Regions from separate parts of the Homo sapiens genome. Here region 1 is linked to region 2. The links come from fine-mapping of genetic effects on gene expression. A gene starts in region 2. The other region holds a variant in brackets. All regions are shown on one strand. Distances are from middle to middle. Region 1 has its middle 30 kb from the start of YWHAH. Region 2 holds the start of YWHAH (tyrosine 3-monooxygenase/tryptophan 5-monooxygenase activation protein eta).

The links. PIP is the estimated chance that this variant, and not a neighbour inherited with it, causes the effect.
Region 1: its variant is the best candidate, but not a certain one, in a credible set for the expression of YWHAH in monocytes (BLUEPRINT, PIP 0.69).

Annotation. Positions count from the first base shown.
Region 1 is chr22:31,912,514-31,916,892 of GRCh38, forward strand. No RefSeq gene overlaps it. Among named protein-coding and RNA genes, the nearest start is that of YWHAH, 30 kb to the right of the region's middle. RefSeq lists an enhancer at 1-155. The variant C/CAA (reference allele first, on the strand shown) is at 2,594.
Region 2 is chr22:31,942,679-31,947,057 of GRCh38, forward strand. It overlaps YWHAH (tyrosine 3-monooxygenase/tryptophan 5-monooxygenase activation protein eta), which reads left to right and starts at 1,857. Exons shown (of 2, transcript NM_003405.4): 1 at 1,857-2,142. The coding sequence starts at 2,056. YWHAH-AS1 (YWHAH antisense RNA 1) reads right to left here and starts at 2,688. Exons shown (of 3, transcript NR_171018.1): 1 at 2,555-2,688. It overlaps LOC124900477 (a long non-coding RNA gene), which reads left to right and starts at 2,156. Exons shown (of 3, transcript XR_007068065.1): 1 at 2,156-2,557; 2 at 2,822-3,000. RefSeq lists enhancers at 319-1,176, 1,177-2,034, 2,778-2,827 and silencers at 1,298-1,447, 1,728-1,817, 1,828-2,047, 2,118-2,457.

The DNA.
Region 1 (4,379 bases), 30 kb before region 2:
GGCTGCAGCAAGATTCCTGTTTCCTCAGTGAATCAGCACATAGTCCTTCCAACAAGAAAATCTCTTTTCCCATGGGGATGAGGGGAGATGGGGAATTGCTATGCAATCTCTGGAAAAGTCTTTTCTCCCTGAGCCCCAGAATTTTCATCTGAACTCATCTGGGAGAAACATTGGGGACCATAAGATTATATATAGACTTTTTCCTTTCTCAACCAACAGGATGGATGAGTGCTGAGGGGGGAATTCCAGTCTGTTTCAGTCCCACAGTTGCCACTGGAACGCAATTTCTTGCCTCTTCTCTGTGCTCTTTTTTTTTTTTCTCTCAGAGATACAGGGTCTCCCTCTGTTGTTCAGGCTGGAGTGCAGTGGCACTATCACAGCTCACTGCCACCCTGAACTCAGTCTCAAGCAATCCTCTCAGCTCAGCCCCCCTGAGTAGCTGGGACTACAGGCGTGCACCACCACGCCCAGCTAATTAAAAAAAAAAAAAAAAAAAAAAAAAAAAGGCCTGGCGCAGTGGCTCACGCCTGTAATCCCAGCACTTTGGGAGGCCGAGGTGAGTGGATCATGAGGTCAAGAGATCGAGACCATCCTGGCCAACATGGTGAAACCCCGTCTCTACTAAAAATACAAAAATTAGCCTGGCATGGTGGCAGGCACCTGTAATCCCAGCTATTTGGGAGGCTGCGACAGGAGAATCACTTGAACCAGGGAGGCGGAGGTTGCAGTGAGCCGAGATCATGCCATTGCACTCCAGCCTGGGCGAAAAGAGCGAAACTCCGTCTAAAAAAAAAATATTATAGAGACGGGATTCTTGCTATGTTGCCCAAGTAGTCTCAAAATTCTGGCCTCAAGAGATCCTCCTGCCGATCGAGACCATCCTGGCTAACACGATGAAAAGCCGTCTCTACTAAAAATACAAAAAAAATTAGCCAGGCATGCTCGTGGGCACCTGTAGTCCCAGCTACTCTGGAGGCAGAGGCAGGAGAATGGCGTGAACCCAGGAGGCAGAGCTTGCAGTGAGTCAAGATCACACCACTGCACTCCAGCCTGGGCAACAGAGCAAGACTCCGTCTCAAAAAAAAAAAAAAAGAGATCCTCCTGCCTCAGCGTCCCAAAGCACTGGGATTACAGGCCTGAGCCACCATGCCTGGCTGTCTCTCTGCTCTATGCTTTTTTTTTTTTTTTTTTTTTTTGAGACAGGGTCTCACTCTGTCACCCAGGCTGGAGCACAGTGGCACAACCTTGGCTGACTGCAACCTGCACCTCCCGGGTTCAAGCGATTCTTGTGCCTCAGCCTCCTGAGTACCTGGAGCCACCATGCCTGGCTAATTTTTGGTTTTTTTTTTTTTGTGGAGACAGAATTTTGCCATGTTAGCCAGGCTGTTCTTGAACTCCTGGCCTCAAGTGATCCTCCCACCTCAGCCTCTCAAACTGCTGGGATTACAGGTGTGAGCCACTGTGCCCAGCCTCTAGTGAGTACTTCTAAAAAACCTACAATGCTCAGGATAGACCTTACAGCAAAGAATTATCCAGCCTCCAATGTCAATCGTGTCAGCTTCAGACACCATGAACTAGACTGTGGTCAGGTAAGAGGCTTAGACGGGGGGACTCCCTCCCTCCTGTGACTTTGGAAGAAGAGGCACCTGTCACTTGCCCCTTCCTGTGATCTGAATCCAATGGCAGCCCCATCGTCAATCTATAGGAATTACTCTTGCTGGGTTCCAAGGCCAGAGTGGCTAAGAAGCCTGCTTAGAGGCTTCCAGCAAGTTACGGGCAGCACCAGATTAGAATGCTGGCCATATTGAGTGCTCACTTGCTGGGACATGGCTTCTGTGTTTCCTTCCACTTTCCTTGTTCACGTACCTTGCCTCTCCCATCGAATGTAAGCTCTTTGGAGGCAGAGAACACATCTTGCTCATCCTTGTATCCTCCACAGCAAGCACCCATCACACATTTGGTGCTTATTTAGAATTTATTGAATTCATTCATTCAGCCAACATTTATGCAAGGTTGAACCAACGTGGGCCTTGCCCTCCTCGTGGAGGGAAGCAGACATGCAAAGCAGCCACCATAGCCCTCTAGAAGAGGTCTCAGATTGGCTATCTGTAATGCAGTACAGAAACTGGCCGGGCGCTGGCCGAGCGCAGTGGCTCACACCTGTAATCTCAGCACTTTGGGAGCCCGAGGCGGGCGGATCACGAGGTCAGGAGATAAGATCTTCCTGGCTAACACTGTAAAACCCCGTCTCTACTAAAACTACAAATAAATTAGGCATGGTGGTGGGTGCCTGTAGTCCCAGCTTCTCAGGAGGCTGAGGCAGGAGAATGGCATGAACCCGGGAGGCGGAGCTTGCAGTGGGCCGAGATTGTGCCACTGCACTCCAGCCTGGGTGACGGAGCAATACTCCATCTCAAAAAAAAAAAAAAAAAAAAAGAAAAAGAAAAAGAAAGAAAGAAATTGGCCAGGTGCAGTGGCTCACGCCTGTAATCCCAGCACTTTTGGAGGCTGAGGCAGGTGGATCACTTGAGGTCAGGAGTTCGAGACCACCCTGGCCAACATGGTGAAACCCCATCTCTATCTACTAAAAATA[C/CAA]AAAAAAAAAAAAAAAATTAGCCAAGCATAGTGGTGGGTGCCTGTAATCCCAGCTACTCGGGAGGCTGAGGCAGGAGAATCACTTGAACTCGGGAGGGGGAGTTTGCAGTGAGCCAAGATCGTACCTCCGCACTCCAGCCTGGGTGACAGAGCGAGACTTGGTCTCAAGAAAAAAAGAAATAGAGGAGGGGGCTTCAGTCTGTGTAGGGGAGCTGGGGAAGACTGGAGAAAGGGGCATTTGGGCTGGGACTTGACAGCTACATAAGAGTTCTAGCAGGTGAGGAGGATGGGGTGGGGAAGGGGATGCTGGAGGGCTGGGGGGTTTTGGCAACAGAACAGTCAGGAGAAGACGACTAAAAACTGAAAGGAAGAACTGCAGAGAGAGTTCCCCGACCTGCCTCACCCAGCCTGCCCTTTCAACAACTAGAGGTGAGTGCTGGCAAGTCCCTGGGTGCACACTGGAGCCAAAAAATGGCCCATTGTCTGGAAGCCCTGAGCCAGCCTGTCCCCTGGTGTCATGCCACACAAGGCCTTGCTCACCTGTCAGCCTTTGCTCTTCCTGGCCCCAGATGTAGGTAGAACAATGGCCTCTGAACACACCCAAGCTCCACGGTGGTAGCCGGTGTCTGATAAGACAAGTAGGGAAATGATCTCTTTCATGTTCCCTTTCTCCTCAGAATCAGAACGCTGCGCCCAGGTTCAACCTGCTGTTTCTTCACCAGGTGACCCTGCATAGGCTTTTGAAACCACCCTGACCCTCATCCGTCTAGCGACAAGATGGGAATCATCAAGACTTCGTTACGTAACTCAAGAAGTCGGTGTGAGAACCTGGGAGATAAGGGTTGTTGAGCTGGGCGCAATGGCTCATGCCTGTAATTCCAGCACTTTAGGAGGCCAAAGCAGGCAGATCACTTGAGGCCAGGAATTCGAGACTAGCCTGGCCATCATGGCAAAACCCCGTCTCTACTCAAAATACAAAAATTAGCCAGGTGTGGTGGTGCACGCCTGTAATCCCGGCTCCTCAGGAGGCTGAGGCTGAGAATCACTTGAACCCGGGAGGCGGAGGTTGCAGTGAGCCAAGATCGCACCACTGCACTCCAGCCTGGGTGACAGAGGGAGACTCTGTCTCAAAAAAAAAAAAAAGGGGGGGGTGGTGGGGCAGCATTTTGAGAACTGAGTCTGAGGAAAAGCCACTGTTACTCTTGTCTGACAATAGTGCCAACTACCTGTGATCCTGAATAAGTCCATTCACCTCACTCGACCTCAAGTTTGAGGGTACAGTGATGACGGCGTTTCTCCAGCTTTCTTTGAGGGATCATGGTGAGGACCCGAGGCAGTCAGCTTTGCAAAGGTGTCTGAGCGGTGCAGGGTGCTCCCCCATTTTAAGGCAGTGCTGTAAATGCTCCCGTAACGGAGGCCAAACATTCTGGTTTTCTATTTTATTTTATTTTCAGACAGGGTCTTGCTCTATCACCCAGGCTGGAGTGCAGTGGCGTGATCACAGCGCACTACAACCTCTGCCTCCCAGGCTCAGTTGATCCTCTCACCACAGCTTCCCGAGTAGCTGGGACTACAGGCACATGCCACCACACCCCACTAATTTTTTGTAGAGACAGGGTCTCACTATGTTGTCCAGGCTGTCTCAAACTCTTGGGCTTAAGTGATCCACCCACCTTGGGCCTGCCAAAGTGCTGGAATTACAGGCATGAGCCACCATGCTCTGCCTAAACATTTTGCTTTGAATGAGCCTAGCAGGTGTACAAGGAACATGATATACCACTAGCTA
Region 2 (4,379 bases):
ACTATCTAGCATGCTCTTTAAATATATTCACTAGGGGAAAGATTAGCCTGGTTTGTTAACCTCGATTCCAACAGCAAAAGTGACTCTTCAAAGCATGGTGAAGCCTGGGGTAGTGGCCTCCTCCTAGACCCACATTCAAATCCTGTTTCATGGGCCCCCAGAAGTGTGATCGTTTCAGCATCATAGCAGGAAGAGGAAGGCCTGGGAGGCAGGAAACCTGGTATGGAGACCCCAGCTCTGCTCACTCGCTGTGCAAACTAGGGCCAGCCCCTCCTTTCCCTCAGACCTCAGTTTCCCGTTATTCAGGATAAGGGGTTAGACAGGGGTGATTCTAAGGGTCCTGCCAGCTCTGACATTTCAGCATGTGGATATCTATTCTAAAGTCCTTGAAACAGTTAAGTCCAATTCTCCAGATGGAAAACAGGTCCAGAAAAGGCCTGGTCTCCAGTTCCCTCCCTTCTCCCTTCGAACATGTCTTACTCTCTAGAGCAAGATTCCAGGCCTGAAATATGGCTTCCCAATTACCTAAGGATGAAGCCTCAAATCTTTGGCCTGGCATTTAAAAGACTCCGTAATCTTGTTTTACCCAACCTCACTTCCCATTCTTAGGCCTCTCTTCTCACCATCTCCCAGGTCACTGCCAAGCCTTTGCCAATGCTGTACCCCAGGCCTTAATCTTTTTCCTGACTCTCCTTCAAGATCCAGCTTATCCCTGTGGGCTGAGCATGCAGTAGATGCTCAATAAAATTCTCAGCGAGCCCAAGGCCCCCTCTCCTGCACTGCCCTTGGCGTGTTGAAATCAAGTGGGGGCCTTGTTTTAATCATCATTTTCCTAGCTTGTCGGGCAGCCCAGTCCAGGGCCTGGCACAAGGGACCCTCAGCATCCAATACCAGCCAGGATTGGGAGGGGCTCAGTGACCAGCCAGTTGGGCCACCCCAGCTCTTTGCCACAAGAGAAAGTTCAGCCTGGGTTTGGACTCAGATCCTGGCCCCACCACTTACAGGCTGCGTAACCCTGAGCAAGTCACTAACCTCGCTTTTCCTCAGGTTCCACGTTTTAAATATGGGGAGACCAGCTGTGCCCACTGTGGGCTGGGTAGTGAGGATTAAAGAGGAGGATGCTTGTACGGGACTAGCACTGGGCTGGCTCCTAATGTGTCCTGAATATTACTTGTCCCGCCCTGGCCACCCAGTCCCCTCCTCTGGTGGAAGGCACAGCCTGCCCAAGGCTACGTCTCAGGTTGGGTTCGATTGTGTGTGTCTGTGTAGCGGGGCTGTCCCCGAGGGTCGGACTCGATCCTGCCCGGACCAGTACAAGGTGTGGCCCAGCAGAACGCATGGACAGGCAGGGCTCGGGGCGGGCGGGACGGCTGGGGCGGGGCTGGGCGGACCCGCCCCTCGGGGCACGCGGTCTCCCGGCTTCTCCGCCAGTATGTTTGCTTGCTTTTGGGGCCCTTCTCAAGCCAGATCTCTAACGTGGATGGAGTGGCGCGTTTCAGGGTGGGGCTATGACAATGCACTGCCTGTGCAGCCGCCATCACCGCGCCCCCTCCACCGGCTCCGCAGTCTCCTGCCCGGCTTTCCCTTCTCCACCTCCATCTCTGCGGCGGTAAAATGCAGCACTCGCAGAGCGCCTGCGCGGCTTTCAGGCCGGGCGGCGGCGGCGGCGGTGGCTATTTATAGTAGGTGACGTCACCTTGAAATAGACCGTTAGGGCCGGCCCGCCCTTCCCCCCTCCCACTCCCGCCGCTCCCCGCCGCCCGGCCTGGCCACTCTCACTGCGCAGGCGTCGTCCCGTCCTCCCATCCCCCAGCGCGGCCGCGTCTCCTCCCTCGGCGTTGTCCGCGGCGCGAGCCACAGCGCGCGGGGCGAGCCAGCGAGAGGGCGCGAGCGGCGGCGCTGCCTGCAGCCTGCAGCCTGCAGCCTCCGGCCGGCCGGCGAGCCAGTGCGCGTGCGCGGCGGCGGCCTCCGCAGCGACCGGGGAGCGGACTGACCGGCGGGAGGGCTAGCGAGCCAGCGGTGTGAGGCGCGAGGCGAGGCCGAGCCGCGAGCGACATGGGGGACCGGGAGCAGCTGCTGCAGCGGGCGCGGCTGGCCGAGCAGGCGGAGCGCTACGACGACATGGCCTCCGCTATGAAGGCGGTGAGCGCGCCGGGAGCCCGGGCGGCTGGCCGGGGGGGGCCTGGCGTTGGGGAGGGACGGGGATGGCCGCGGGCGCGTTCCCCTCCCGGCCATGGGCGACCCGGCGACCCGGCTGGGCGTGGCCGCCCGCCCGCCCTTAGCCCGCGCTTCCCGCTCCCGCTGGGCGCCCCGCCACTTCCTGAGGCTGGGCCCAGGGTGGGGGATCCGGGAGGGTGCAGTTCGGGATCGCGAAGGCAGCCCCGGAAGGGGGGCGGGCCGGTCGGGGTCGCCACATCTTAGTTCGGAACCCGGCCGGGGGCAGAGGGTGCCCTAGGGGACGCGAAGGAGCCGCATTTCTCCTAGAGCGTTTCACCGGACCCGGGGGCTCCCCCTCTCGTCTTCCTCCGTTCCCCAACTTGGAATAAAGAATCACCTAGTAAGTGGCGCCCTGTCTCAGCTGGTTTTCTCTGCCACGACCTGAAGTCTGCAATTCCGATCTGTTTTGCTCTGCTCGTTCGAATTGTTCTGGTTCCATCTTCCCACGCCTGGGGGTCTGGCTTTGTGTGCGAAGACCCCTTTCCTGCAGTCTAGGCGTGGACGGGGGCGGGAGAGTGGGCGGAGGGTGTGGGGCCCCACTCCACAGCCCCAGGTTTGCTGCTGCGCTGTCTGCTTGGAGATTAAAATGAAACGTGACTTCTAGGTGAGACGAATCTGTGTGTCTTTGCATTCCTGAGACCCTCATAAATCGATTCTGCAGCTTCTCCGGTGGATGAGTCGTGCCCAGCCACACCCTAGCAAAATACCGTGGGTCACACACCACCTGCATTTCTGAGTTCCGGTTACCATCTCACTCTCTCTCCACGTTATTTTACGTTTTCTGTAAATGAATATTTCCTCTCCCTGCGTCAAGGTCACACAGTGGTAGAACAACTGCGACCACCAACCTATGTTCAGTGTACAACCTCCTGAGACCTGGGAGGATCCCCTTGAACTCCGCCTTAGACCTATACATTCAGAAATTCGGGCGGTGAGACTCAGACATCTGCATTGTAACCAGCTCTCACAGGCGATTTTTAGCTGGCTTAAGTCTGAGAATTACTGCCCATGATTATAGTAAATGTATCCTTTGCTGGCCTTTTGGAGGGAGTTCCGAAAAAAAACTGCCAATACAAAGGCTCCCTAAAATCTTAAGTCATTTGGAAAGCTCATTTGAAGGCTTTTGATGTTAATATCAGATGAAATATGTAGTTGGGGCCAATATTTAGGATTGTTCAGGTAAGAAAGGTGCTTGAAGAGTTGCCTTTCCTCTGGTGTCCTTGTTACACACATAACTGGGTGTGTTTGGAAACCAGCAACACCGTTGCCCGTATGTTGATTTGTTGGTGATCTTGACTTGAGCACTATTAGCATGCTGTTGTGGTGAGGCAGGTTTTCTTCCAGACCGGGGGACGGTCTAGGTCTGGAGGCTGAACTTTATGTAATTCAGGGGGTCCTTTAAAAGAAAATCTAAAATATAGTTTTGCATATTTTACAAAAATGGGACTGACGAATGCATTTCCTTGGAAGGGACCCTGAACCTTAATTTTCTGTGGGATAAAGCTGCCTCTGTCCACAGCAGGTCACACTTAAGCCCCTCCTCCCCAGTAACTGAGTGGTGCTGGGATTATGCAGGCTGAGGCCTCTCCACACATTTTCATGAAGTGGTTGCTCACCCTCTAAGTGAGACGTAAAGACTGCAGTGTTCGGAGCCCTTTGGGAAATAAATGTGGTGAAAAGAAAGGAGGGACGAGGTTTAAAGGAAGGGGAAATGGAGGTTAAGGAAAAATGGCTAGAAGGTGTGTTCTGGAACAATCAGAAACCTGAGGCAACTTGAAATGGGGGAAAAAGGCAAGAATGGAGAGATGTTACCAGAACGAAATCTAGTTTGAGCAGAGAAAAAGACTGGCTTTCTAGTAGGCTTGTAAAATGCTTTCCTGCAGCAAGCTACTTGTGTCCATAGATCTTCTCTGGAGGGTTAAGGTAGCCTTTTGTAAACCAAAGGAATCTATAATATCTATATTTGAAATAATTAATGAGTTGGAAAAGCCACCCAGCGTAGAAGAGTCAATCCAAGCTTTAATTCTGCCATCTCAGAATGGTGATAAACCATTTCTCCCCCATCATCTAAATGGAATATATTGTGCTTATAGGTATTTTCTTTAAAAGAAAAAAAAGAATATATTGGAAGGGACTGGCAGGGGTCACTTTCCCTGCTAACT